Homo sapiens: one gene and its partner. The protein of the gene in region 1 purifies or fractionates together with the protein of each later gene. This does not show direct contact. Each region holds a gene or a part of one and is shown in the gene's direction. Other genes may lie near its edges. The genes, in order: E2F8 and TTC33.

Region 1 (15,690 bases):
CCATTCAGACTGGTGTGAGATGGTATCTTATCGTGGTTTTGATTTGCATTTCTCCATTTAGTGATGTGGAGCATTTTTTCATATGTTTGTTGGCTGCTTGTATGTCTTCTTTTGAGATGTGTTCATGTCTTTTGTCCATTTTTTAATGGGGTTGATTTTTGCTTGTTCAATTATTTAAGTTCTTTATAGATTCTGGGTATTAGACCTTTGCTGGATGCATAATTTACCATTTTTTTCCCATTCTCTAGGTTGTCTGTTTACTCTGTTGATAGTTTCTGTTGTTGTGCAGGAGCTCTTTAGTTTAATTAGGTCTCACTTGTCAATGTTTTTATTGCAATTGCTTTTGAGGACTTAGTCATAAATTCTTTCCTAAGGCTGATGTCCAGAGTGGTGTTCCCTAGGTTTTCTTCTAGGATTCTTAGTTTGAGGTCTTACATTTAAATCTTTAATCCAACTTGAGTTAATTTTTATATATCTTGAAAGGCAGGGATTCAGTTTCATCCTTCTGCATATGGCTATCCAGCTATCCCAGCACCATTTATTGAATAGGGAGTCCTTTCCTCATTGCTTATTTTTGTCAACTTTGTTAAAGATTAGATGCCTGTAGGTGTGTGGCTTTACTTCTGGGTTCTCTATTCTGTTCTATTGGTCTATGTGTATGTTTTTGTACCAGTATCATGCTGTTTGGGTTACTGTAGCTTTATAACATAGTTTGAAGTTGGGTAATGTGATGTCTCTGGCTTTGTTCTTTTTTCTTAAGATCGCTTTGGCTATTTGGGGTCTTTATTGGTTCTGTATGAATTGTAGAATTTTTTTCCAATTCTGTGAAAAATGATGTTGGTAGTTTGATATGAATATCATTGAATCTGTAGATTGCTTGGGGCAGTATGGCCATTTTAATGATACTTATTCTTCCAAGTCATGAACATGGAATGTTTTCATTTGTTTGTGTCATCTCTGATTTCTTGAGCAGTGTTTTGTAGTTCTCCTTATAGGGATTCTTTCACCTCCTTGGTTAGATGTATTCCTAGGGGTGTGTGTGTGTGTCTATTGTAAATGGGATTGAGTTCTTTATTTCGCTCTCAGCTTGAATGCTATTGGTATATAGAAATGCTACTGATTTTTGTACATTGATTTTGTATCCTAAAACTTTACTGTTTACAGTTCCAGGAGCCTTTTGGCAGAGTCTTTAGGGTTTTCTAGGTATAGAATCATATAGTCCACGAAGAGATGGTTTGAGTTATTATTTTCCTATTCAGATGCCTTTTATTTCTTTCTCTTGCCTGATTGTTCTGGCGAGCACTTCTAGTACTATGTTGAATAGGAGTGGTGAGAGTGGGCATGGCATCCTTGTCTTGTTCCAGTTCTCAAGAAGAATGCTTCCAGTTTTCATGATGTTGGCTATGGGTTTGTCATAGATGGCTCTTATTATTTTTATGTATGTTCCTTCGAGGCCTAGCTTCTTGATGGTTTTTATCATGAAGGGATGTTGGATTTATCAAAAGCTTTTTCTGTGTCTATTGAGATAATCACATGACTTTTGCTTTTAATTCTTCGTATGTGGTGAGTCACATTTATTGATTTGTATATGTTGAACCAATCTTGCATCCCAGGAATGAAGTCTACTTGTTCATGGTGAATCAACTTTTTGCTGTGCTGTTGAATTCAGTTTGCTAGTATTTTGTTGAGAATTTTTGCATCTATGTTCATCAGGGATATTTGCCTGTAGTTCTCTTTTTTTGTTGTATCTTTACCAGGTTTTGGTATCAGAGTGATGCTGGCTTTGTAGAATGAGTTAGGGAAGAGTCCCTCCACCTTGATTTTAGGAATAGTTTCAGTAGAACTGGTACCAACTCTTCTTTGTATGTCTGGTAGAATTAGGCTGTGAATCCATCTGGTCCAGGATTTTTATGATTGGTAGGATTTTTTATTACTAATTCAATTTTGGAACTAAATATTGATCTGGTCAGTGTTTCAATTCCTTCCTGATTCAACCTTGGGAGACTGTGTATTTCCAGGAATTTATCCATTTCCTGTAGATTTTCTAGTTTGTGTGCATAGAGGTATATTCACAGTAGTCTCTGAGGATCTTTTGTATTTATGTGAGATCAGGCATAGCGTCACCTTTGTTGTTTCTGATTGTGCTTATTTGGATCTTCTTTCTTTGTTAATCTAGCTAGTGGTCTACTGATCTTGTTTATCCTTTCAAATAACCAACTTGGTTTTTGTTAATTCTTTGTATGGATTTGGGGCCTCAATTTCATTCAGTTCCACTTTGATTTTAATTATTTCTCTTCTTCTGCTAACTTTGAGATTCATTTGTTCTTATTTTTCTGGTTCTTCTAGGTGTGACATTAGATCATTAATTTGAGATCTTTCTAACTTTTTGAGGTAGGCACTCAGTGCTGTAACCTTTCTTCTTAACAGTGCTTTTGCTGCAACCCAGAGATTTTGGTATGTTGTATCTCTGTTTTCATGTATTTCCAAGAGATTTTTAAATTTCTGCCATAATTTCGTTGTTTACCCAAAACTCATTCAGGACTAAGTCGTTTAATTTCCATGTTATTGTGTGGTTTCTGAAAGATCATCTTGGTATTGATTTTTATTTTTATTCTGCTGTGGCTGAGAGTATGGCTGGTATGGTTTTGATTTTTTTTTTTTTAATTTATGGAGACTCGCTTTATGGCCGAGCATATAATCAATCATGGACTATGTTCCATGTTAGCACTATCGTAAAAGAGTATATAGAACTATATATTTTGCGGGCAAACTCAAATGCAATTCATTAATAACTATAACCACACGTGGATTAATATACTCTAGTCAATTTCCATATTGATAACTGTTGTGAGCTTTTATTAAGCTTTTTTTTTTTTTTTTTGAGATGGAGTCTCACTCTGTCGCCCAGGCTGGAGTGCAGTGGCACAATCTTGGCTCACTGCAACCTCTGCCTCCCAGGTTCACACCATTCTCCTGCCTCAGCCTCCCAAGTAGCTGGGACTACAGGCACCCACCACCACGCCCTGCTAATTTTTTGTGTTTTTAGTGGAGACGGGGTTTCACCGTGTTAGCCAGGATGGTCTCAATCTCCTGACCTCGTGATCTGCCCACCTCTGCTTCCCAAAGTGCTGGGATTACAGGCGTGAGCCACTACACCCAGTCTAAACATTTTTGATTAAGGCTTAGAGGAGAGCTATCTAATTCTTTTGGAAAATAAGTTGTTTTGTCAACAAAATTAATCTGTGTAGGTCCTATTCTGTCTCTGTATTGTACAATAAAGCAGTTCAATGAGCAATAAAACTCTACCATAATATATCTGGATATCATGAAGCATATTAGGTCAAATCATATCCTGAAAACCGTAACTTTAAGGGGTATTCATTAGTGCCAAGAAGTTGGAAGAAATCAGGCAGATTTCAGATTTCAGGGAGGAGTGGATTATTAGAATGTTTGGTGACTGTTTAGAACCTTATATGGGGGATGCCCCCAGCCTGACACAGCTGATCAAGAGCCTGCTCTGTCTTCTCAGTGCCTGAATTCACAATGACTGAGGGCCACTGAGGTGTAAGGAACCCACTTATGCCAACTTCAGTATCATTCCAAGAGAAACAGGGCATCCTCCCGTGACTAAGAGGCCACAATCTTGAAGAACTCAGAGAAGCAGACAATTTGTCCAGATGCAGTCCACATCTCTGCAGAAGAGGGAGAAAGAGAGAGGGGGAGTGGGAGTAAGTGAAGAGTTGGCTTTGTTGCTGGGATCCCAAGGGCAGCCAACATGTCCTGTAGCTGGTGCCTAGCTGAGTCCCTAGGCTTGGAGCAAGTGATCCATACATATGGGATGAAAGGAGAAGAGAAGAAAACTTGGGTTCCTAGGGAAGAAAAATATCTACAGAAACTTTTAAAAAGTACTATAGAGATAGAACATTTATTTTTAAAAAAAAAATAAAAAAGGCATATTTGTTGAATTGAGGAATGGCGAGAAATCTCACACAGGAAAAAAAAAATACAATAAAAGCTAACACTTTGCACCAGACACTTTCTACTGCTTGAATATAAACTCCAAAAGGGCAAGGACTTTATCTCTTTCACTCACTGTGTATACCTAGCACCTAATTCAGGGTTTAGGGGCATAGTATAGCACTCAGTATACTATTTTTCAGTGAGTAAATAAATAAAACCGAAGAACCTAGCTAAAGTAAAAAACCTGACATTTAAAAGGGAGTGGTAATTACGAGCTCATTTTCCTAGCATTATGGAACACCAAGTGTGTGCCAGGCATTGAACTCAGTACTGAAGATAAAGAGATTAAAAGACAAGGTATCATCTGAGGTTGGTGGGATAACATTCCAGAGTAGAATTTTACTCCATCAACCAACACCTATCAAGCCCCTGCTCTGGGTCCGGCACTTTGCTGGGCACTGGAAAGACCAAGAGATGAAGAAGTCCCTCTCCCTGCCTTAAGGAGCGCACAGTGGTGTAGGTGGGAAGCATCCATAACAGAGGTGCCTATATAGGGGTATGATCAAGAACAGGATGTGAATAAATCTGCCTGGAGGGGATCAGCACAGTTACCTTTCACTACCAGCTTTAAGCAAAGAGCAGCAATCATTGATTGATCAGGAAGGTTATAGGATTCCTGCATTGAATGGGACTTTTGTTTTTTTTTTTTTTTTAAGACAGAGTCTTGCTTAATGGCCCATGCTGGAGTGCAGTGGTGCAATCTTGGCTCACTGCAACCTCCACCACCCGGGTTCAAGCAATTCTCCTGCCTCAGCCTCCCAAGTAGCCGGAATTACAGGCCCCACCAGCACGCCCAGCTAATTTTTGTATTTTTAGTACAGACGGTGTTTCACCATGTGGCCAGGCTGGTCTCAAACTCTTGACCTCAAGTGATCCACCCGCCTTGGCCTCCCAAAGGGCTGGGATTATAAGCATGAGCCACAGCGCCTGGCTCCAGTAGGACTATATTTTAGGTAATAAATTCCTGAACCCTACTCCTAGGAATCTCTACATATACTTCTTTAATGTCCTAGAACCTGGAAAAGCAGGTTTTTCCAACCCACTGATAAGCACTGGATTACATGACATTATGACAATTTTAAGATTCCATGCGCAATAATAAAATGAGAACAGAACTCAGACTCCAGCTTCGCATGAGGACTCTCAGAAAAATTTGTGTTCTATTATCCCCAAAGTATTTTTAAAATTTAGAAGCTGGCTGGGCGCAGTGGCTCATGCCTGTAATCCTAGCACTTTGGGAGGCTGAGGTGGCCAGATCATGAGGTCAGGAGTTCGCGACCAGCCTGGCCAATATGGTGAAACCCCATCTCTACTAAAAATACAAAAATTAGCTGGGCGTGGTGGCGCGCACCTGTAGTCCCAGTTACTTGAGAGACTGAGGCAGGAGAATTGCTTGAACCCAGGAGGCAGAGGTTGCAGTGAGCCGAGATCACACCACTGCACTCCAGCCTGGGTGACAGAACAAGACTCTGTCTCAAAAAAAAACAACAAAAAAAGAAATTAGAAGCAGTAATTGCTCAATAAATGGCAGCAACTGTTGCTGCTGCAGCTGAGTCCAGGGCTGCAAATGTCTATATGGGGCTCATCAGGATACATCAGGGCCTATCAGGAATTTCCCACAGGAGGTCACAGGAGAGTCTGAAGGGATTTCACACACAGCCCTGCTGCTGCCTGGGACTTACTCTGACCTAGTCTAGCTCCACAGTCAGCACAAGCCAGCTCCAGGCATGCCCACTTCCTGGGTCCCTTGCTTGTATCCATCCTCTTTAACCCTGCCCAGACTAGACCCAGCATGATTCATTTGTAGGCTTAGTACAAGGACCAGGAATAGCTGAGATCTAGCTGTGAGCAGCCACAATCCAACCCAGCACATAGGGATTTGTGCAGTTTTAAGCTCCAGAGAGCTGTTTCGTGGTATCTATGCCAACACGTACTGCAGATAAAGCACAAACCCAAATTGCCCCACTAGGTCAGGAAGCAGAGTTGGTGATATAAGCACCTAGGAGGTGGGGCAGCAAGACAGACAGAAAAGGTCAAGAAACCCATTAGCTAGAACTCCTTCCTTAGCCCTTCATCCTTCCCTGCTCAGCAGGGGAAGGTCTTGCCTGTCTTTTTGGTGATGATGAAAAGGGACACGCTTCAGAAATCCCAAATGTTACCTTTGAATGTAGGCGCCCCGGTGATGCCTATCTTTCCTCCTTACCTTTGATATCTTTTTTCATAATACTTTATTTAATGCTGAACGTGTTACACAACGTATCAGCCCTCCAAGTTGTGCAATCCAGAAGGGCGACAGCACAGAGTAGAAAAACTGGTCTAACTTCAGTGAGACACAGATTACACAACATGATGAACAAAAGACCAGAAACAAATACACAAATATTCCCTTGGATTATGTAACTAATAAGTGGAAAACATATTTGATGGGAAAATTAAAAAAAAAAAAAAGTTTCAAGCTTATGCCCTGATCCTTCCTTCTTGGTTATGCAGTAAACATAAAAGTTTTCAGTAGTCTTTTCCCTCCTTTACACTCATGCTGCATTTCAAATTGATACTCTACACAGTGATGAGTAGAACCTTTCTTTCTTTATTACCTTTCATTACATGAAAGTGTTGTTAAGACTTCAAAACTGTATCACTTCACTCTTAATAAAACCACTTTTCAACATATTCAATGAGTTTGACTATAATTTCACTTCCTTCAGTAAGACATGACAACTATCAGTAAGCAAGAATTACACTCTCACCTTCCTGTTTTTTTGTGTGTTTAGGGAGGGGTTGAAATGGTTAAGGGCTAGCCTGAGTTGGCACTAACATTGCTCTCACAGGAACTTTCAGAGGCAGTGGAATGGGATGTATGAACTTGGAGCAGGTAGACCTGGATTCTAATTCTGGCTCTGTAGCTAACTTGGCCATCAGTTTAACCCTTTTGTGCCTCAGTTTTCTTCTCTATAAAATGGGACACAACTATCCTATGAAGCAAGTAAGGATGAGCACGCCGCACAGTGGTGAACACAGCTTTCAGTGGAAAGCCCTGAGACGTTAAACACCCTTGGCTTCAAATCCCAGTCCTGTCCCTTACAGTTAGACCTTGGGTTTGTCACTTTAAAATGCTGCTTCCCTCTCAGAGTCATAACCCATGCTTTCACACCTGTGCTGAGTATGAAATGAGAGGCCATCTGTCAAGTGTCACCAGAGGTGGCTGCTCCCTGCATGATGTGCCTTACAGGTAACTGTCACTCAGACATCTGCAGCATGAATGGCCCTGTAGATCACAGATTTGAACGAATTAGTCACTATCTCTGAACACAGGTGCATGAGGCAGACTGCTTCTAAAGAACTTTAAAAGGGATTTATGGCCCACAGGACTCCGGGGCTGTAATAACTTCGGGTACATTAGGCATAGCTGAATCTATGCACTCTTGGGAGCGCTGACCATTCAGGGGGTTGGGGGAGATGACAATCTGGCCAACAGCTAGTGGCTAAAGCAGAAGCACCAACTCCCCACTTTTTGTTGATACATTTAGAACCCAGTCTTGCTCCAAAAAAGGGGTACCTGGGCTTAGTAAGAACCAGCCGCTCAGTGCTAGCAACGGTGGAACCCTATATAGTGACCTCTGCTTTATTTCAAATCTGCGAGCCACAGGCAGTGGCCCCTCTGCACAGTACCTGAAAGGCCTGCTTTCAGGTCGAAGCGCCTTCTTGAGCAAGACCTGCACCTCAGCTGGCGACGAAAGGGGGACAGGGACACGACGGCGCCAACATTCCAGGGCGGCCACACCGCAAGCCTGCGGTCGCGTTCCGCGGGGAGATGAGCCTTCGCTCGCCACGGAGACCCCTGGCCCTATGGCCGGCAGCTGCTGCGCTGCGACCCCAGCCTCAATATCATAGCATCCCCGCCCTCATCGCGTTTCGCAGAAAATAAAAATGCCTCGCCCTGCTAGTCAGCAATGGGAGAGTCACTGATCCCCAAGTTAGCGGTGGGAGTGGGGAAGTGTGGCCCCGGGCCCTGCTGGAGCCTAAAGACACGCGATTACAGAGGAGGACGAGCCAAACCGAGTCCAGATCGAGAGACCGGCGCCCAGATCTCGGCGCGGTTGGGCAACACTCAGCACCAGTCCGCAGAAAAGTCTAAGGCAGAGGAGAGCAAAGGGAGCCAACGCGGGCGCAAATGATCCAGGTGCAGCCGAGGCAGCGCCGCCGCCCCGGGCCTCGGTGTCCCGTTCTGCAAAGTGAGGACGAAGGATCGAAGTGTCTCCCCGACCCTGCTAGGGCTCTACAGGGAACCAGGCTAAAGCTGCCTGAGGCTCGGAGACCGGAAAAAGAGGGAAAGACAACAGGGAAGAGAAAGGGAGGAGTGGGTGGGAGACCCTGAGGAAAGACGGCGAGGACAGGGTTGGAGGGTTTTCCGCCTTCCTCCTCTTCCTCCTACACCTGAGTTCTCACCGCTGGGCCAAGGCCCAGAGCCCACGGAGCTTAGGCACCAGTAGCCAAGCTTCTCCCTCCTCGCGCCAGTTTCTGCGAGGCACGGGGCAGACGGTGGGCAGCACAATCATGCATGCCAGGGGTGCAAGGGGGAGAGGTCCGGCTGGAGTCCGAGGGCAGGTGAGCCGGCCTGGGGCTGGGCAGGGGTGAGATAGCCCCAAGCGGGGAATCGCAGGGCGCCTGCGGCCCAGCCCGCGAGCCCCGGACGGGCCAAATTTTATTCCCCAACTTTGAGCAAGGGGAGGGGGTGTATGCAAAAAAAAAAAAAAAGGAAAAAAAAGTTGCTGAACTTTTCCCCCAACTCTGCCGTAGAGGCGGGAGTGGAGGGCGGTGCCTGCACCGATTCGCCGGCGGCTACGGTCGGGAGGCTCGGATTGGCGCTCGGGGGCCGGGGCCGGGGCGAGCGGGCGTGGGGGAGGGGAGCGGCCCTCCCCGCCCGCGGTATCGGCTCGCGCCGGGAGCGGGTTAATTTCAAATCGGGGGCTTGGCTGCTCCTGGACGGTCACGCTCCCTCTGCCCGCCAGCCGGCCCGCCAGTCCCGGTCCCGGCGTCTCTCTCCGGCACCCACCTCGGCGCTGCGGAAAGACTGACTGCCAGGTACGCGGGCTCCCGGGCCTGAGAGGGGCAGCGGTGCTGACGAGTCCCGGCTCAGCCCCCGCCGGCTCCCGCCGTGAGGTGGACTGACAGGTCAGCGGGACGCAGAGGGGCGCGGCGCCCGGGCGACACGGCACCGGGAGAGGGCTCGGGAGGGTGGCGGCGGCGGCGGCGGCGGCCGTTTCCCGCCTCCCGCTTCGCCGGGGGCCGTGAGGGAGGAGCTGAGCTCCCGCGCAGAGGGGCGGGGGCGAACGAGGGGGAGGGGCGGGGTTGCCGTGGTTCCGGGCGCGGGTTTGCCCGCGCTCAGGCCCCGCGCAGCTAAGGGGAGGCGCCGGCCACGGTCCGACTTTCCGCGCCAAATTTTTAAATCGAAGGCGGAAGGTCCGGCCCCGCCCCTGGCGCCGTCGGCCAATCGCAGGCCCGCTTCCGGCCCTCTGATTGGTCGGGAATTGTTGTCCTGGAAACCACGATGATGCTGTCCGGGAACTGTCGGGACTGCGGCGGGCGGACAGGGCCTGGGGGAGGGGCCTTTGGCCGAAAGTTGGGGGAAGTGCACTGAGCGAGTGGCGGCCGGGGGACAGTACCTGCTTGCCTTATTGGGCAAATACAGCCTTCCAAGGTGGAGTCTAACGCCGTGGTGTGAACTGGCCACCCGAACAGGGAGTAAATAGTGCTTTGTATCTTTAAGGAAGCCCTTTTTTAAATTTAAAAAAAAAGTCTTAATTATAAGACTCTTTAAATGCCCAACTGCATACTTGGAGCTTTGGGACTGAATTTGGAACTTTCCTGTCAAGCGACCTCCCACGACTTTACTGCTGAGCCTGTGCACGTGTGTGTAAGGGGAGAAATCCAGGCATCTAGATGCAGACTTGTACCCAGTTACTTGGGGTCGCGTGCGCTCAGCTGGGACCTGGGCTCGTGCGCTTAGTCCGGAGCCCTGATCTGCGAACAGGTGGGTGCTTCCTAAAGTATTCGCTGGGGTCCGGAGAATGGCTCGCCTTTTCTACAGATGGGAGAGGGCTGTCACTAGAAATTCCGTGGGTTGCTTGAAGTCTTAGGACCGCCGATCCGTTTGCTGAAGGAATTTACTGGCATTTGTTGGCGTTCTCCGCTCAGTGGGGCGATCTCTGGTCGAGAATAAAATGTAAATCTAGTTTGTCATTTTTCGTTAGGCTTTGTTTCCGTAGCCTCTTGTCCGTGAAGGAATTTTCAACAGATCTTTTGGTTCTTGTTTTTCTCTAACTTTTTCTATTTCCTTTTTTCTTTAAGGATATTAAAACTTTTAGTACAATTGATTGGACTACTTGAACCATCGGGATTTGGGGAGGAACTCCAGATTTTTCATTTTTAAACTCTAAATGTATGAGGAATTTACAGAATGGAGAACGAAAAGGTACTTTATAACTTCAGTATTCATCATTGCAATTTTAAATTCAGTATCATCCTGATTTAACTCCATAATTTTTCCCTATCCAATGTGTTTTCTTAATGCCACAACCTTGGTTAGCCTCTGTAAAGACCTGGAAAAAATGAACCTTATCTTATAGTTTCAAAAATATATAGTTTAAAATATATACTAATTTAATTAATATAGTTTAAAAAATGAAAATTATCTTAAAAAGAAATTCAGTCTCCAATCATGTCAAATGCCCTTTCTGAATTCCAGTTGTTCAAGAATCCTCAGAAATGTTGTAATGAAACTAACAAATTTTATTATTCTTAAAAATACCTTTTCTCTCTTTATGTCTGAGACAGCTACCAAATCATTAAAAACTAGAAAGAGTGTAAAGGGGCAAACCTACCCCTCTTCAAAAATTCGTTAGTTTCATTACAACATTTCTGAGGATTCTTGAACAACTTGGAATTCAGAAAGGGCATTTGACATGTTTGGAGACTGAATTTCTTTTTAAGATAATTTTTTACCAAATTGGCAGCTTATTTATGGGGTCTGCAAAATGCTCTGTTTAGGGGGCAAACATTTTGTAAAATTACAAAAGAATTGTCTGTGGGGGGTGTCCAACTACTAATAGGTTTAAAAAAGTGAACTTACATGCATATTTCCTAATAGTTTTAGATGTTAGTCAAATAAGAGAATTACTATTGCTTCTGATAATCTGAGGCAAAGAAAAAGCCTATTGTCAGATCAGTACATCTCAGATGCACACACTGGCAAGGAGCTCCTGTTGGGTCCACCATACTGACTTCCATGTAAGAAGAGCACCATACTTGGAGTGAAAATATCTGTGTTCCACTCCTACGTGACCTCTCTCAGCCTGCATCTTCTCTTCTGCGAGCTAAGAATGCAGGATTCCATGAACATACAAACGGAAATGCACTTGATAAACCCAAGATGTCACAACATGTCCCATTTGTCCATGTTCTTAAAGTTATTTGGTCTGCCTATTATTTTACTTATTGCTGTTCCAAGCATTTTCTTTAAAATAGATAAAGATGGGAGTAGTGTGTGAAGTCCCTGGTGTCCAAAACTGGAAGGAACATAGTCTCCATTAGCCTTATTTATGAACTGCTGTTAATTTACCCTTTTGTCTCAGTGGCTATCCTGCTTCTGCCAGGATCTAGCTTTGTGGTCTTAGGTAGCTGTTAGGTTGATGCAAACATAATTGCTGTTTTTGCCATTACTTTCAGTAGCAAAAGCCACAATTACTTTTGCACCAACCTAATCATTTTACTTCTCTGGGCCCCATTTTCTCTATCTGTAAAATGAGGGAGTGGATGTTCAAAGAGCAGACTTTTCTGGTCAGAAATCCTGCTGTTGGACACTCTAGATTTCCCTGATAAATCTGACCATATGCTATCCCTCACTCTTGTCTCCTTGTCTCTCTGACTCTTCAGTGGTATTTTATTTAGCACCCACTGCATGCAGCCATTATGCTAGGTGGATAAGAATTTCTGCCCTGTAGGCCTTTACTTATTACAGTGCCATGAGTAAACAAAAGTCATTTCTAGAAGTTTGATCATTTAACATTGTCAGTCCAATTAGGGGAAGCTGAGTGAAGGGCATTTGGGAACTCTATACTGTCTTTGCTTCTCTTCTCTAAATCTAAAACTATTTCAAAATACAATTAAAATTATAAGTCCTAACTAAAGTTGTTTTTTCAGTGGTTGAAACATAAGGTGAAAACATTTATGGCTTATTGCAAAATTAAAAATGGGAAATGTAATTATTAGAATTGACAATACACATCACATGACCATTAGAATACAGTTATTAATTTCCTCAACTCTACAATCTCATTAGACATTTTTTCCTTGGCATGATTCTATTCGTTATGCAATTTCTAGAATCCAAGCTGTCTGATAAATCCTGTTTTACCATGGATTTAATTATTTACATTTTTTAAACCAGGAAAATCTCTTTTGTGAGCCACATAAAAGGGGACTAATGAAAACACCTCTGAAAGAATCCACCACAGCAAATATCGTGTTGGCAGAGATCCAGCCTGACTTTGGCCCTTTAACCACACCTACCAAGCCCAAGGAAGGCTCTCAGGGAGAGCCGTGGACACCGACAGCCAACCTGAAAATGCTCATCAGTGCTGTGAGCCCTGAGATCCGCAACAGAGATCAGAAAAGGGGTTTGTTTGACAACAGAAGTGGATTACCTGAGGCCAAAGACTGTATACACGTAGGTTTTCAGAGGACTGGTTGGAGGCTGGGGAATTTGTTGGGGGGAGGGGGGAGGTTGTAGCTATTAGAGAAGTGCCAGCAATTTAAAGCATCACCACCCGAAGGCTGTTATTAACTTCCTTCGGAGCACCAGAAAGGTTTGGACCCCAAGAAATATAGCTCTGGGAATTCTGAACCTTTGCGTTATTTTCGTTTCAGGCTTTCCTTTCAGGTTTGCCAAGCATTTTGTACTGGCCCCCCTAACCTTTTCTCCCATCCAGACTTTGCAGCTGTTGAAGCTAAGCGTGTGTAAGTTGGTGTCAGTCATCGAGCACAGATGCCCCTAATAAATCTGTCAGACTTTATTTTAGAATAAGACATTGTTTACCTTTTCCTTTGTAGGAACACTTATCTGGAGATGAATTTGAGAAATCCCAACCAAGTCGAAAAGAGAAAAGTTTAGGATTATTGTGTCATAAGTTCTTAGCACGATATCCTAATTATCCCAACCCTGCTGTGAATAATGACATCTGCCTTGACGAAGTGGCAGAGGAACTTAGTAAGTATGCAAAGAACTCACTGAAAGAATTAATAATTAAAGTGGCTTTATGGACTTAACTCCTTCAGACCCCCGCTCATCTAGCCAGTGTTTGTAAATGACACAAATAAGCCGGCATGGAAATTTTCTATCTCTAAAGCCCTCTTCTAATATAAGAATGAAGGTAAGTAGTTGCAAATTTCAGCAAATCTTGGAGGCAGAAAAGTCACAATGGAGGTTGCTTCTGACTACAGTTGTCTCTGAAGCTTTAAAGAAAGGCAATATTGTCTCATGACTTGTTTCACAAAGTTACAACTGTGAACTTTTGCTTCATTGCTCTCCCTTGCTGTTCTTGAAGAATCAGGCTGATAAATGGTTATCTTCCTAGTTGACGCTGAGGATCAGCTTCTGTGAGTGGGAACAGGACCTGTGCACTCCTGGACCTTCAGCACTATTCTGAGGACTAGTTTTCTGAATGTTTTGTGTTGGGCACAAGTTATTCCTCCTGCCCCTTTTTACTCTGTTCAAAGACCTGAATCTATTTGGAGCTAAAAAGGGGCCCGTGGTGAATTTGGGGTACCTTTGGAGTCATGTGGGTATCTTAATTTAAACCTGTGAAGTGATGTGCTGTGCAAGATAATACATTTTAATACAAAGCAATCACCCCGTGAAGAAAAGTTGCCCTTCTAATACATGTTTGTAAATATCAACTTTATTTCACATTTTAAGAATATACCGTTTAGATTCATCTACTTTTCATATATGCTTAATGGTAGCTGGGTAGGATATTCAGCAAATATCTATTAATCTTCTACTACTATGTGTCAGGCAATGTTGTAGGAGCCTGGGATACATCCGTAAACAAAAAGGGCAAAATCTCTTCTCTCTTAGAACCTATATTCTAGTGGGGCAATAGATACTGAGTAAAGGATATAGGAAGTAAGTAAGGATAATACATGCTAGAAGGTAACATGCATAGTGGAAAAAATAAATTGTAGATCAGGATCAAGGGATCAGGAGTGCTGGGGAGGTGCTTTGCCATAAGTGGTCAGATCAGGCTTCGTTGAGAAGGTGACATCTGGGCAAGGACTTGAAAGAAGCAAGGTAGGGAGCTGTAAGGACATCAGGGAGAAGGGTTCCAGGCAGAAGGAACAGCCGGTACAAAGCAAGTGCATATCTGGCAGGTTCCAGGGACAGCAAGAGGTCGGTAGGATGCACCCTTATTAAAATAGTGTTTTATTGATCACTTTTCCAGAAAGGCTGATCTCATCAAATATTTAAATTGAAATTAAGTTTCTTGAACGAAGAGAATTCTAACATTACAGAATATTGAAAACCCAATTTAAATAGATAGAGTCACAGAATTACTAATATCATATTGTTAATGATAGCTAGAAAGTAAGCAAAATTAGACCCAAAAAGGCATATTTTATTTTTATGTAAGTTTTTAAAAACTACATCATGGTTTTTGTACTTTTCTGAAATCTCAGCATTTTGTTTCTATCTTATGATCATTACAGATGGGCGTGTGTGTACGTGTTTGTATTGGAAGCGGTTGGAAGGTGTGAGATGTAGAGTTTTAAAGACTTGGTTTGCTACTTGCTAGCTCTTTTGGGGTGAGCTACTTAGCTGGTCTGAGCCTCTGTTTTCTCATCGTTTTTTTTTTTTGTTTGTTTGTTTGTTTTTGAGACGGAGTCTCGCTCTTTCGCCCAGGCTGGAGTGCTGTGGCGCGATCTAGGCTCACTGCAAGCTCCGCCTCCCGGGTTCACACCATTCTCCTGCCTCAGCCTCCTGAGTAGCTGGGACTACAGGCACCCGCCACCACACCCGGCTAATTTTTTTGTATTTTTAGTAGAGACTGGGTTTCACCATGTTAGCCAGGATGGTCTCCATCTCCTGACCTCGTGATCCGCCCTCCTCGGCCTCCCAAGGTGCTGGGATTACAGGTGTGAGCCACCGCACCCGGCCTTTCTCATCCTTTTTAAAGTGCAGATCATAATACCTACTTCACAAGTTTAGGGTGAAAACTTCCTAAAGCTGTGTAGCACAACTTAGGCCCTCATTAAATGTTGCCTTTCTAATTCATATGATTTGTGCCCTTGGAAAGCAAGCACATGTCTTTCTCACCTTCACAGTATTTGTTGAGTATGTTCACTTACAGTTAGGAAAGTGATATTATCCAAGACCTACTGACTAATAAACCAATGGAAGAAAAAGCTATTCAATTCTAAACACGTTACAAAAATCTGTAACACACAATTGCACATTCTTTGTAGATGTTGAACGTCGACGCATTTACGATATCGTGAACGTCCTAGAGAGTTTACATATGGTGAGCCGCCTCGCCAAAAACAGGTACACTTGGCACGGGCGACACAATCTCAACAAAACCCTTGGCACCTTGAAGAGCATCGGGGAGGAGAATA
Region 2 (15,728 bases), on another chromosome or scaffold:
TCAACAATCATCTGTGTTTGTGGAGCTGTTGCCAGCTTAACATAGACCTTGTATTTATTCTTCTTTCTTCATGGCTTACTTCTGTTTTTCCCTCACTCTTGATTGCGTGGGATCCTATCCACTCAATAAAGATTTAGCCAGTAAGCTTTGGCCTCAGGCTCTGTTTTCCAGGTAACCCAAATTATCCTGGATTTCTTTCTTTTTTTCACTCATACCAAGTCCAAGTTGAGCCAACTGTACATTTTCAGTGTGTTGTAAATCTTTTTTCCTCTTTCTGTTTTCACTTCTATCCTTATCTAGGGTTATCTCATACCTAAATTACTTTGGTTGTCTCATATCTAGCCTTCCTGTGTACATTTTTGTACCCTTACTGTCTATTCTTCTGGGTCTGACTGATCTTTTAAAAATGTAAATCAATAATTCATGTCTCACTGTTGTATAAAAACTCTGTGGATTCTTCATCACACATACAATTAAATCCACATGCATAACTATGGCTTATTGTATTCTCTGTGATCATGGCTTCGGCCCACCTCCCTGACCTCTGACTTCCTTTCCTCTGGTTTTATTTCCTTTCCACAAAACATGGTTTGGTCCTGCCCCAGGTTCTTCCCTTTGCCTGGAATGGACCTTCTCCAGATTTTCAGTTGTCTGACCACGTTTTGTCACTCAGGTCTCAGCTTGAATGCGTTCCTAGGAAGACCTTTCTTGACCGCCCATTCCGAATAGCCACTTGGTCACTCCCTATCACATTCCTCCATTTGTCTTTTATCACGGCACTTATATTTTAACTGTTTGTTATCTTTCTTTCCCTGTCCCCTTCTAACATGCATACACTTTAGAAAGTAAGATCTGGAAGAATAGTAGGGACCTTTTATATCTTGTTGGGTGCTGCATCCTTAGTACTTATTACTAGAATTCTACCTGTCCCAGGGTAGGTGCCCAGTAAATATTTATAAAGTGAATAAGCTGTTAACTATATAGCTCATTAAATTTAAAGCCACAGTAAATTAGAAGTCTAATTGGGAGTAAAGTAGCTAAACACATTGACATTTCTATTTGGTAAATGAGTGTGCTATCTAACTTATTTAGCTTGATCACCAGCTGTTCTTTACCTCAGTATAGGGCATTATCTCATCCTGCCCTGTTGTAGTCCATGGAACTATTCCCTTTGCTTCCTTCCTTGTGCTACTTCAGTTGCATACTGTTAAGATTGTCCTTAAACTGGCGGAATCAGACTTTGGTCATTTATTAACCACAGTGACTTTAAACCAAGTTTTTATCTTTTAATGCTTCCTATCCAACAGCTGCAGTAGGGCTGTGTCTGTTCAGTCTGTTCCAAACTGAAGTTGAATTAAGAGATATGCTGCAGAAATTATGAGAGACTATTGATTTGTTCAGTGCCAAGTTTCCTGTGATCTAAAAATGGAGGAACTAAGTGGTGCCACCCTTTGTTTGCAGGCCAACAGAAGTAAACCAAAGAGAAATGAGAAGGGGGAAGAATTGAATAAGTTGATGATAGTGAAGTAAATACCCACCATTTCTTGCTTTGTTTAGCATGGAAAACAGCTCACTTGTTCCTTTAAACCTTTATAGGCCTCGTTGGCAACAAAGCACATTTCATTGAGGGATGCCTCTGCTGGCAGCAATGGTTATGCTTTCAAAATAAAAGACAGTGCAGTTGAGAAGAGAGGACATTTTTCTTTTTTCTCAAATCTGTAAGCCTGTGTTTACACGTGTGTGTGTGTATGTCTGTTTGTATGTATATGCACACATGCATACCTGCCTAATAAAAAGAAAAAACTAGTGATGGTCATTGTCACCTTGAACCTCTTAGTTTATTTCGTACTTGGGACAACTTAAGCTTAGGAACATAAGCAGCTTTGTGGGGTTGGGGACGGGATAAGCCATCCTGTTCTCAGCAGTAGTGCTAGTGGTATTTTCAGCAAGACAGCTCTTTATTGTGCAGGCTTGCTCTTTGCCTTGAAGAATGTTAACATCCCTGACCCTCTGCCACTAGTTCCTCCAAGTCACAGTGATGACCACAAATGCCTTCTATGGGGTGATAACTTCCTCTGGTTGAGTTGGGCAGAAAATAGGACTGGAAGTAAAAAGTAAATTTGACAAATATGATAAGCTTTTAACAGTGGTTGGGCCAAGTAGATCTAGGGTTGGCAAACTTTATTTATAAAAACAACCTGTTTTTATAAATAAAGTTTTACTGGGACACAGCAATGCCCATTTTTTGAATGCATTGTTTATGGCTTATTTTGGGATACAGTAATAGAGTTGAATAGTTGTGATAGACTGTATGGTTCACAAAACCTAAAATGTTTACTATATGGACCTTTACTATGCCACCCCTTGCTCTAGAGACCAAAGACCTTCAGCCCCTTCCTCAAAAGCTGTCAAAGACTCCTGAAACCTCAAACATCCAGGTTCTTAAGGTCCCTCTGCTAAACGTAGAATTCTCATGTTTTTGTTTTTTTCTACCTATATTCACATTCCCCTAGTCTTGGGATTTCTTATAATTTCTATATATGAAATAATGAACGGAACAAAGTAAGAATTTACATTTTTACCACTTTTGTCTTAGGATAGAATTTGTTTTTATTACCATTTTTTTTTCCTGTGTGTTAAGAGCATGCTACATCTGTCCCCTCTTTTCTTGCTTTATATGCTGCTCTCTGCTGCCTTCAGGACTTGGAGAAGGTAGGACAAATGAGGTAGATAGAATCTGTTATATTAGGCCGGGCGCGGTGGCTCATGCCTATAATCCCAGCACTTTGGGAGGCCGAGGCGGGCAGATCAGTTGAGGTCAAGAGTTCAAGACCAGCCTGGCCAACATGGTGAAACCCCATCTCTACGAAAAAACAAAAATTAGCCAGGTGTGGTGGCATGTGCCTGTAGTCCCAGCCACTCGGGGGGCTGAGGCAGGAGAATCGCTTGAACCTGGGAGGTGGAGGTTGCAGTGAGCTGAGATCATGCCACTGTACTCCATGTACTCCAGCCTGGGTGACAGAGCAAGACTGTCTAAAAAAAAATCTGTTATATTAGTACCTTCTACATTCCCAGAAATGTTCTGGGTACTGTAGAGCATATAAACAAATCTACCCTTTGGTTCCTGAACTCATTAGAGAAGAGAAGACAAAAATACAAGGAGGAATTAGAGCAGAACTAAATGGGAGGCATACTTGATATAGTTACAGAAAGTATTGGTCTTGTATTTTTAAGAGCTAGCTTTAAATCCTGTCTTTTGCAGGACTTGGACAGTCCTTTAGCTGCTCTCAACCATTGGTTCCTCATCAATAAAGTGAGAACAAGTAATGCCAAACTTGAGGCTAGGCATGGTGGCTCACCCCTGTAATCTCAGCACTTGTGGAGGCCAAGGCAGGAGGATTGCTTGAGGCCAGAAGTTTGAGACCAGCCTGAGCAACATAGTGAGACCCTGTCTCTACAAAAATAAAAAAATAAAAAAATTAGCTGGCCATAGTGGCATATGCCTGTAGTCCTAGCTACTCAGTAGGCTGAGGTGGGAGGCCCTTGAGCCCAAGAGTTCAAGGCTGCAATGAGCTGTGATCATGCCAGTGCAACGGAGCAAGACTCTGTCTCTCAAAATAATTTTTAAAAAAGCAAATAACACCAAATTTATATTCACTTACTTTGAGTAGTAAGTGAATTAACTTTTTGGGAAAATAATTGTATGTTAAATAATTGTATTGAAAGTGCTTTGTAAAACATAAAATGCTTTGGAAATATAAGTGTTGCTATGTGGTCTGAAGTGGTACTCATAGTTAGTGGGCTAGAGCCACTGGAGGAGGTCTTCATGAAGAACGGAGCATTTTAACTTGGTCTTAGAGGAGGAGCCTTTGAATAGATGAAGAGGAGTAGGAAGGCAATCTTAGATATGTGATATGGTTTGGCTCTGTGTCCCCACCCAAATCTCACCTTGAATTGTAATAATCCCCGTGTCAAGGATGGGACCAGGTGGAGATAATTGAATTATGGCGGCAGTTTCTGCCATGCTGGTCTCATGACACTGAGTTCTCACGAGATCTTATGGATTTATAAGGGGCTTCCCTGTTTGCTCAGCGCTCATTTCTCTCTCGTGCCTCCATGTGAAGAAGGATGTGTTTGCTTCCCCTTCTGCCATCCTTGTAAGTTTCCTGAGGCCTCCCCAGCCCTGTGGTACTGAGTCAATTAAACCTCTTTCCTTTATAAATTTCCTAGTCTTGGGCAGTTCTTTATTGCAGCGTGAGAGTGAACTAATACAGATGTGTGTGTGTGTATGTGTAGCAGGGGATCCATACTAACAAAGGCATGATATGTGGGTAGGGACTATAAAAACCCTGCTGAGTGGAGCACAGGTATGTGTAGGGAGTGGTAGAAAAAAGATTGGACAAACAGTCCAACCTTTTCCTTCTAATGCTGGAGGAAAGACATTTGCTACTATTAAGTCTTGCAGAATTTATTACTGCTACCTTTGTTAGAAAATTGTGAGTGGAAGGATTGTTATGAAGGAATACATCAATAAATTAATTTCCAAAGTTTTTCCTGTCACATCTACAATAACATTTGGAAATATTGTTTAGAGAGGCTTGAAATCACCCACAATATGCCTAAAGAAGTGCAAGTACTTTCTTTTTAGGTGATATAGTTACTGCTTTTAGAGGTTATATCATTAAAGCTTAGTAGATGATGGCACCACAGTACTAAATTTATTTAATGTTGTATATACTTTTATTATTATTATAAATAATCAGAAATGGGTGTTAAATTATACTAAGTATTGTTTAGTGGCATGTACTTTTTTCTCCCTTATCTGTTACATATGAACCCATTTCTAAGTTTTTCTGAGCATACACTACATGATCATGTGGATTTTGTACTTTAGTAAGTTGCTGGACTTAATTTGCTAATCCTTTATTTTGGATTTTTACATATATTTCATGGACTAGAAAGTAGTCCAAAAAACTGTTGAACTGAAAGTACATGACTGCTCCTCCTGAAAGCAGTCTAAGAGTAGAATGGTGTTTGCCCGGGGGTGGAGGAGGGGGCAATGAGGAGTTATTGTTTAATGGGTATGGAGTTTCAGTTTGGGAAGATGAAAAAGTTCTGGAGATGAATGGTGGTGGTGGTTGCACACAAAGGTGAATGAACTATATGTACTTAATGCTACTTAATGCCTCTGAACTGTACACTTAAATGGTTAAGATGGTAAATTTTATATTTTACTACAATAAAAATTTTTTTTTGAAAGTCCAAAAAAGCATATTGAAAATATGGCATTGATATAACTTTAACAACCACAGATATCGGGAGGCAATTCAGAAGTGGGATGAAGCACTACAGTTAACTCCAAATGATGCTACCCTATACGAGATGAAATCACAGGTAATAATTATGAAGAATTTCACTTTCCTTATGAAATTGTGCTATGTTTGTTCGGTGAGTGAGCAATGATGAAGCAAAATAGCATTTTCTCCCATTTTCTTTTACAAATACGGTTTCTTTGGGAAAAAATATTTCACCATTATTTATGGTTCTGTCTTATGCATAAAACTGGAAATTCATTTGCCTTTACAATGAAGTTAACTGTTATTTTAGCCTAACTATTGTAAGATAGGAATCGGTGGCTATCTTTTAAAGTCACTGGTGGGCAGGTGCCATGGCTCACGTCTGTAATCCCAGCAATTTGGGAGGCCGAGGTGGGTGGATCACTTGAGGTCAGAAGTTCGAGACCACCCTGACCAACATGGTGAAACCTTGCCTCTACTAAAAATACAAATATTAGCTGGGCGTGGTGGCACATGCCTGTAGTCCCAGCTACTTGAGAGGCTGAGGCAGGAGGACCACTTGAACGTGGGAGGCGGAGGTTGCAGTGAGCTGAGATAGTGCCACTGCACTCCAGCCTGGGTGACACAGCGAGACTCCATCTCAAAAAAATAAATAAGTAAATAAAAAATAAATAAAAAGTCACTGTTGAGCTCTTAGATGAAAAACATACGCTTTCCTTGTGATTAAATATAGTAGACTTAGCAAAATAGTTCAGTTTTCTTAAAAATGAGGATGGATTGGGTTCTAGATGAGATATTTCTAAAAATGGCTTAGTCCTTAGCAAAAGGTCAGCATAGATGCAATTTTATTAATAGCTTAAAAATAACATTTGTACTTTAAAAACATGTTTCTAATATTTTGTAGGAAAGTCTGTAAAGAAAACCTTTGAGCACTTGAATAGGTTATCCAAGTGATTTTAAAAGTCTCACACAGAGCATTAAACATATTTTTGGCAGGGAATTGTTGCAATTCAGCCTTAATCTGCACACCTAACAAATATTTTTCAAATCGTGATCTCAAATATAGGACACACATTTGTCACCTTTGACTTTAGTTTATCCAGGAAAAACCCAAATAAATTATGTCATCTGAATCAAGTGATATGAGGACCTTCATTTGTATTCCTTTTTCAATCTTAAATATGTATATATGAATGACAGGTTTGTGGCAAGCTTTATGAAGACTTGTTTAATTTGGAACCTGATAATAATGTTTGTATCACAAATCTTTTAAAGTGTTAATGGTCCTAAAGATTATAGATAAAATCCAGCCTCTTCCCACAGACCACAGTGGAGGGTACTAGAACTCTCTGGTAACCCTAACTCTCCCTAACCCTAACCCTAACCCTAACCCTACCTTCCTAGTATGTATGGTTTGAAATGCCCAGTAGTGAGAAGGCCTAGGGAATGTTTTAAATACTTTTTATAACATAAAGATGTTCATTAGGGACGGGATGGCTGGTTGAACAAATTAATTCACCTAGTTTAATGGCAATACCTGGGGTTCCCTGAAAACCACATTGTAAATAGAATAAATGGAAGTGGAATTGGGAGTTCAAAATACCTCTGAGCCACCATAGTTAGGATATGACCACTTGGTTTTGACCAGATGGACATAAGATTCAATAACTGGAAAGGGAATCGTTTACATTTTCATAGTTATATAAGGGGTGAAAAGAGAACTATAATTTCTTACCCTGAATGGCAGAGTAAGGGGTAAAAATCACCGAAATGCTATTTTTACTGGACTAAAAATATATCTTAAAAAATGAAAAGGGTTTTTTATGTAGTTGCTAGTTTATGAATATTACTGACAGATTTTTTGGTCTTTTTTTGCCTATAGGTGCTAATGTCTCTTCATGAAATGTTCCCAGCAGTACATGCAGCAGAAATGGCCGTCCAGCAAAATCCACATTCATGGGAGTCTTGGCAGACTTTGGGACGTGCTCAACTTGGTTTAGGAGAGATAATCCTGGTGAGGAAGTCAGATTATTATAATGCAGAAATTTTAAGTATATTTTGACTTTTTTTTTTTTTTGAGATGGAGTCTTGATGTCACCCAGGGTACAGTGCAGTGGTGCAATCTCAGCTCACGGCAACCTCCGCCTCCTGGGTTCAAGCGATTCTCCTGTCTCAGCCTCCTGTGTAGCTGGGACTATAGGCATGCGCCACCATGCCTGGCTAATGTTTTTGTATTTTTAGTAGAGACGGGGTGTCACCATGTTAGTCAGGCTGGTCTTTAACTTTTGACCTCAAATGATTCTCCAGCCTCGGCCTCCCAAAGTGCTGGGATTACAGGCGTGAGCCAACATGCCCAGTCTATTTTGACATATTTTTGATTAACTGAACCCAAAAGTGAATAGCCGTTTATCAAGTCTATACAAAAAACAATTAGCAAATTACTTCTTAAAGGTATTAATCCATAAACACAGTTCACAGGTATTACTGAACATCTTTTTTATTATAGACACTAATTATATCATGATCAGAATATTTTTCAGTTACTTGACATCATGGATATTAAAAAAAATTTAACATAAAACATTGGCATTTGGTAAACCTTATTTAAATAGACAATAGGCAACTTTTTGGCTTAGTTCTTTGGATCATTACATTTACCACATTATAAAGTGGTATTAGTATCACTGTGGAGACAAAACCGCTGATAGATTATACAGGGGAAGGAAGACAGTAGAATATGGGAGGGTAATGGTGATGAACATTTAGACTGAAAAGTTGTTAGGCTTATTGAGGGGATAAAGAGGAAGAGTAGAAATGTGTGCAAATGAAATACTCATTGTGTAATGTTTACCGTAAACTGGTACCTAATGCATCTCTCAATTTGTCTGGACTATACCTTGTTAGTAGCAGAGGCTATCTAGGTAAGAATTAGCTGTGACAGCTGTCCTGTTGTTTTTCTTTTGGCAGGGCTATATACACCTGATAGCTAACGAAATTTAACTTCCTAACAAGTGTTTGCAAATCTAATATACAGTGCCAAATTTCCTCCTTGTTATTAAGTAAATTAAGATTTTAAAAATGGTTTTATTTTTTACAGTTCAAAATAAAACATTTTAAAAGTTTCTTGCAAGACTAAAATTACTGATAAATTCAAAATATAAACTTACTAACAGTGGTTTTAGTAAATTGTGGATGACTGAGCTTTTTTTCTGGCATTCTTATAAATGTATCATTATTTCTACTTACCAAAAAAGGTGTTTGTCAAATTCTCAGAAATAGTAAGGAATTTGTATGAGAAAATAATTGATTTGATTAAAGTAAGTTAATGATAATCTAAATGAGATTCACAGTGATAGAAACCATTTTAACCAAGTACTGTTTTTTTCTTGCCATTTAGCACTGTCAACTTCTCTCTTTTTACATGAAGACTTAAATCATACCAGAGTTGGAAAAAAGAGTTCAAAGAATTTAGTTTTCTAACATTAACAGGGGAAGAAAACCCTATCATATAATACTTTTTCCTTGCCTCCCTTATTAAAAATTTATACATCACTATCTCTTTTGCCAATAGTGTCTATGGTAATGGAACAAATCTCTAGGACATAATATTTAGTAAAGATTGTCCTTTATAAAGAAAGAAAATACACTGCAGGTGAGACGGAGATACTTTGAATCATCCAATAAAAATAATTTAATATTTAAATTTTTTTGAATAAGAGTACCAGTTCGACTTTTTTTTTTTCTGTTGATATGGCTCTATTCATTAATACTGTGAAATTCTTAGAAGAATTGAAAGTATTTTTTTTTTGCCATTTAAATGTAATTTTTAGGAATCTTCTCTGTTTTTATGTAGATTTAAGCTGTTCTCTTAAAAGACTAGAATGGTAAAAAAAAAAGATGACTCAAAATGTCATAACGAAGGGACACTATGTAAAATATATTGAAAGCAAGCTAGAATTTCTAATATCTAACAATTCTTACTATATATACATATGGACTAAAACCATAGGAAATTATGTATGTAAATAGCACAGGCAGTAAATTAAAAGTCAGTAGTTGGGTATATCTCCATGAATAATTATTTAAACTTTGTAAGAGTTGGATGTGAACATTGGAAAATGTTTATAGGAGATATATATATATAAAATATGTATGTATATGGTATACATTTTATATATATATACGTGTGTGTGTGTGTATATATATATATATATAAAAGACTTTATGAGAATGAGATTTTAAGAAGTGGAAGGATGAGAGAATAAGAAAGCTGAAGCCAGGCGCGGTGGCTCAAGTCTGTAATCCCAGCACTTTGGGAGGCCGAGGCGGGCGGATCACAAGGTCAGGAGATTGAGACCATCCTGGCTAACACGGTGAAACCCCGTCTCTACTAAAAATACAAAAAATTAGCTGGACGTGGTGGCGGGCGCCTGTAGTCCCAGCTGCTCGGGAGGCTGAGGCAGGAGAATGGCGTGAACCTGGGAGGCGGAGCTTGCAGTGAGCTGAGATCGCGCCACTGCACTCCAGCCTGGGTGACAGAGCAAGACCTGTCTCAAAAAAAAAAAAAAAAAAAAGCTGAAGAGAATGGTTCTGGGAGTTAAAAATTCTGTATGAGGGAATGGGGATGGTGAGAAAGGAATACATAAGGGATTTATCCTGAAGAAGAAGGTAGAGAGGGAAGGAGACTGGGAAAGGTAATGAATACCAGGAGGTAACAGTATCAGGAAGGATTCTTCTGTTGGCTTTCCAGGGTTCTCAGCCTTCAGTGCTGGAACTAGCTTTGTGGCTTCCCTTCTTCGGGCTCTGTGTAATTCATTGCCAGCTTTTGCTTTTCTTCATGCCAATGTGCAATAAATACTAATTTTGTTTACTAATGTTTTCTCTGTTTTCCAAGTCTCATTTTAGCCATTGGTTTTAATATTTTGCATGAGCAAATCTTTAATTAGAAATTTCAGTTGCATCATTTGATTCTTTTTATTGTTTCGCTTTTGTAATGGTAGTAATGGGATGGACAAGTGATAATTTCCAGACAAAAGGAAGATGATTGAGAGTTTTTAAAATTTCACTTGAGGGGCTGGGCATCCTGGCTCACGCGTATAATCTCAGCACTTTGGGAGGCTGAGGCAGAAGGATTGCTTGAGGCCAGGAGTTTGGACCAACCTGGGTAGCATGGCAAGATCCTATATTTACAAAAAAAAAAAAAAAAAATTTGGCTGGGCATGGTGGCTCATGCCTGTAATCCCAGCATGTTGGGAGGCTGAGGTGGGTTGATCACCTGAGGTCAGGAGTTTTGAGACCAGCCTGGCCAACATGGTGAAACGTCGTCTCTACTAAAAATACAAAAATTAGCCAGGCATGGTGGTGTGTGCCTGTAGTTCCAGCTACTCAGGAGGCAGGAGAATATCTTGAACCTGGCAGGTGGAGGTTGCAGTGAGCTGAGATCGCACCACTGCACTCCAGCATGAGTGACAGAGTGAGACTCCATCTCAAAAAAAAAAAAAAAAATCCACTTGTAAATTTTTAGTTTAGTTAATTACTGTAGACATTGTTTGAGTCAAGCTGCATTATCTTTTTTATAATTGAATAGTACAAATTCTTGAATTATAGTCTTTATAAATGTTGTATGTTGACACTTAAGAATTGAGTTTTTTTCTTGAAAAATAAAGTTTGTTTATGAGCTTTATTATTGTTCTGTTTTTTTTTGTTTGTTTGTTTTTTGTTTTTTTGAGATGGAGTCTCGCTCTGTTCCCCAGGCTGGAGTGCACTGGTGTGATCTCGGCTCACTTCAACCTCCACCTCCCGGGTTCAAGCCATTCTCGTTCCTCAGCCTCCCAAGTAGCTGGGACTATAGGCGTGTGCCACCATGTCTGGCTAATTTTTGTAATTTTAGTAGAGACAGGGTTTCACCGTGTTGGCCAGGCTGGTCTTGAACTCCTGACCTCATGATCCTCCTGCCTCAGCCTCCCAATGTTCCGGGATTACAGGCGTGAGCCACTGTGCCTTGCCTCACAATTTTACTTTTTGAGTCTATGAATTTGCCTGTTTTAGAGATATCGTATAAGTGGAATTATGCAGAATTTGCTTTCTGTGACTGGCTTCTTTCACTTAGCATAATGTCCTCAAAGTCCCATCCATGTTGTGTATTGTAGAATTTGCTTCTTTTTTGAAGCTGAAAAATATTTCATTTTGTGTGTATACCATTTGCTTTGTTCATTCTTCCTTTGATGGACATTTAGGTTGTTTCTACATATTGGCTATCGTGAATAGTGCTGCCATGAACCTGGGAGTGCTAATATCTCTTTGAGATCTTGATTCTTTTGGATAAATATCCAGAAATGAGATAGCTTTATTACATGGTAGTTCTAATTTTAATTTTTTGAAGAAACTCCATAATGGCTACACCATTTTGCATTTTTACTAACAATATACAAGGGTTCCAGTTTCTCCATAACCTCACTGACACATCTTGCCTTTTTGTTTGTTTGTTTTTTTTTGAGAGGGAATCTTGCTCTGTCGCCCAGGCTGGAGTGCAGTGGTGTGATCTCGGCTCACTGTAACCTCTGCCTCCCGGGTTCGAGTGATTCTCCTGCCTCAGCCTCCCAAGTAGCTGGGATTACAGGTGCCCATCACCACGCCTGGCTAATTTTTGTATTTTTAGTAGAGACAGGGTTTTGCCATGTTGGCCAGGCTGGTCTTGAACTCCTGGTCTCAGGTGATCCGCCCACCATGGCCTCCCACAGTGCTGGGATTATAGGTGTGAGTCACCGCATCTGGCCACCTTTTTTGTGTGTGTGATAATACCCATTTTAACAGATGTGAGGTGATATTTCTTTTTTTTTTTTTTTTAATTTGAGTTAGCTTTTATTTAATTGTTAAACCTATGCTTTGAGGTTTTTAATTGAAATTTTTTTAAATTTTTTTAGTATTTATTGATCATTCTTGGGTGTTTCTCGGAGAAGGGGATTTGGCAGGGTCATAGGACAATAGTGGAGGGAAGGTCAGCAGATAAACATGTGAACAAAGTTCTCTGGTTTTCCTAGGCAGAGGACCCTGCGGCCTTCCACAGTGTTTGTGTCCCTGGGTACTTGAGATTAGGGAGTGGTGATGACTCTTAAGGAGCATGCTGCCTTCAAGCATCTGTTTAACAAAGCACATCTTGCACCGCCCTTAATCCATTTAACCCTGAGTGGACACAGCACATGTTTCAGAGAGCACGGGGTTGGGGGTAAGGTTATAGATTAACAGCATCCCAAGGCAGAAGAATTTTTCTTAGTACAGAACAAAATGGAGTCTCCCATGTCTACTTCTTTCTACCCAGACACAGTAACAATCCGATCTCTCCTTTTCCCCACATTTCCCCCTTTTCTATTTGACAAAACCGCCATCGTCATCATGGCCCGCTCTCAATGAGCTGTTGGGTACACCTCCCAGATGGGGTGGCGGCTGGGCAGAGGGGCTCCTCACTTCCCAGATGGGGCAGCCGGGCGGAGGCGCCCCCCACCTCCCGGACGGGGCAGCTGGCCGGGTGGGGGCTGCGCCCCCCACCTCCCGGATGGGCGGCTGGCTGGGCGGGGGCTGCCCCGCCACCTCCGGGACGGGGCGTCTGGCCGGGCAGGGGCTGCCCCGCCACCTCCCGGACGGGGCGCTGGCCGGGCGGAGACGCTCCTCACTTCCCAGACTGGGCGGCTGTGGGGCGGAGACACGCCTCACTTCCCAGACGGGGCAGCTGCTGGGCGGAGGGGCTCCTCACTTCTCAGACGGGGCGGCCGGTCAGAGACGCTCCTCAGTTCCCAGACGGGGTCGCGGCCAGGCAGAGGCGCTCCTCACATTCCAGACGGGGAGGTGGGGCAGAGGCGCTCCCCACATCCCAGACGATGGGCCGCCAGGCAGAGAGGCTCCTCACTTCCTAGACTGGATGACGGCCGGGAAGAGGCGCTCCTCACTTCCCAGACTGGGCGGCCGGGCAGAGGGGCTCCTCACATCCCAGACGATGGGCGGCCAGGCAGAGACGCTCCTCACTTCCTAGACGGGGTGGCGGCCGGGCAGAGGATGCAATCTCGGCACTTTGGGAGGCCAAGGCAGGCGGCTGGGAGGTGGAGGTTGCAGCGAGCCGAGATCACGCCTGGGCAACATTGAGCACTGAGTGAGCGAGTTGAGACAGAGTCTCCCTCTGTCACCCAGGCTGGAGTGACATGGTGCGATCTCGGCTCACTGCAACCTCCGCCTCCCGGGTTTAAGCGGTTCTCCTGCCTCACCTCCCGAGTAGCTGGGACTCATGAGGTGATATTTCATGGTGGTTTTGATTTGCATTTCCCTGATTAGTGATATTGAGCATCTTTTCATATACCTGTTAGCCATTTAGAGAAATGTCTATTCAAGTGTTTAGCCCATTTTAAGATCAGGTTACTAGGTTTTTTGGCTATTGAGTTATTTCTTATATATTTGAAAGTTAAAACCTTAGATATGATTTGCAAATATTTTCTCCCATTCCATAGGTTTCCTTTTACTCTGGTGGTTGTTTCCTTTGTTGTGCAGAAGCCTTTTAATTTGATGTAATCTCACTTGCCTATTTTTGATTTTGTTGCCTATGTTTTTGGTGTTATATTCAGGAAATCATTTTTAAGACCAATGTCATGAAGGTTTTCCCTGTTTTTTTGTTTTGTTTTGTTTTGTTTTTGTTTTTTTTGTAGGAGTCATAAGACTCCTACAATGTAAGCTTCAGGTCTTACATTTAAGTCTTTAATGCACTTGGAGTTGACTTTTGTTTATGGTGTAAGATGAGGATCCATTTTCATTCTTTTGCACGCGGATATCCGGTTTTCCCAGCATCATTTGTTGAAGAAACTAGACTTTTCTCATTATGTATACTTAATGCCCTTGTTGAAGATCAGCTGACCATGTTGGGTGTGGATTTATTTGTAGGCTGTCTATTCTGTTCCATTGGTCTATATATCTGACTTTATGCCAGAATCGTATTGTTTTGTTTGCTGTCACTTTGTAATATATTTTGAAATTCATGAGTATGATGCCCCTAGTTTTGTTCTTACTTCTAAAATTGATTTTGTCCATTTACTTTGTGCCCAGCTCAGGGAAGGGGTGATAGCAACTTCCAGCCCAAATATCCCTCTCTGTTCTTCCTAGCCCCCAGGCAGCTGGATTTTGCCAAATTCCATCAGTACTCCACTACAGGTAAGACAGAAGCCAGTCCTTTTGGTAGTCCCCATAAAAACTGGGGCATTGGACACAGTGTGGACCAATTCTTTTCTTCCCTAGGCAAAATCTGGGAGCTGGGAATTTTCTTCGCTCACTGTATGCCAAGCTGGGGGAACAGATAGGGTGACTACTCTTCCAAACCTCCGTTATCTCTGGTCTCCTGTAGGTGGTTAGATTATGTAGGACTTGTTTTAACAGTGGTCCAAAAAACAGGCAAGACAGAAACCAGTACTTTTTGTAGCCACCGTAGAAGTTGGGGCATTGGACACTCAGACCAATTCATTCTTTCCCTTGAGGGTAGCTTGGAGCTGCAGGGTTCTTCCCAATCCTGTGGAGCTGTGCTGGGAGTAGGATTCTGGTGAGAGGGTGTCCTGAATCTCCCTTCTGGCTTTGATGAGTGTGTATTCTTATTCATCCAGGGTGCAGGAGCCTTTCAGTTAGTTTCTGGATTTCTCACAAAGGAATTTTGTTTGTGAATTGTTGCTGAATTGGTGTATTTGTTGGATGAAGGAGGGTCCAGGGCTTCCCACTCTGCCATCTTGCTGATGCTACTCCTCTGCCATTTTGTTTTGTGAAGTTCTTTGAAGAGGAGTGCCCTTGGGAGATTTTAAACTATCTTAAATTTGAAAATGTAATTGCAGCTCTTTGGATTTACTTTAAATACATATGTATATTTAAGTTTAGTAAATATGAAAGCATTAGTAATCAAGACAGTATAGTACTTAGATAGGCATAATGTAGACATATAGATCAGTGGGATAGAACTGAAAGTACAGAAATAAACCTACATTTTTACAGTTAATTGGACAAGGGTGTCAAGACAATTTAATGGGGGAAGGAATAGTCTTCAGCAAATGGTGCTGAGGCAGTTGGATATCCACATGCAAATGAATGACTTTGGACTCTTACTTCACATTTTATGTAAAAATTAACTCAAAAACAAACAAAGACCTAAACATAAGAACTAAAAGTATTATAAAACTCTTAGGAGAGAACATAGGTGTAAATCTTTGTAACCTTGGACTCAGCAATATATTAATATTTTTTAGATATGACATTGGAAGCACAAACAACAAAAGAAAAAAGTAGATAAAAATTGGACTTCAAATTAAACACTTTTGTGCTTCAAAAGTTACTGTCAAGAAAGTGAAAAGGCAATTCACAGAATGGAAGAAAATATTTGTAAATCATATATCTGATAAAGGTCTAGTATGTAGA

What was found.
Region 2: the proteins of E2F8 (region 1) and TTC33 purify together in Homo sapiens (affinity purification with mass spectrometry; 2 studies listed by BioGRID and IntAct, with this or other methods). This does not show direct contact.

Annotation. Positions count from the first base shown.
Region 1 is NC_000011.10:19,234,909-19,250,598, reverse strand, and holds the start of E2F8 (transcription factor E2F8), read left to right. Parts: upstream 1-9,653; 5' UTR 9,654-10,051; intron 10,052-10,368; 5' UTR 10,369-10,477; coding exon 10,478-10,492; intron 10,493-12,466; coding exon 12,467-12,745; intron 12,746-13,128; coding exon 13,129-13,285; intron 13,286-15,540; coding exon 15,541-15,690. UniProt on the Homo sapiens protein: Atypical E2F transcription factor that participates in various processes such as angiogenesis and polyploidization of specialized cells.
Region 2 is NC_000005.10:40,719,928-40,735,655, reverse strand, and holds part of TTC33 (tetratricopeptide repeat protein 33), read left to right. Parts: intron 1-5,312; coding exon 5,313-5,394; intron 5,395-7,179; coding exon 7,180-7,311; intron 7,312-15,728.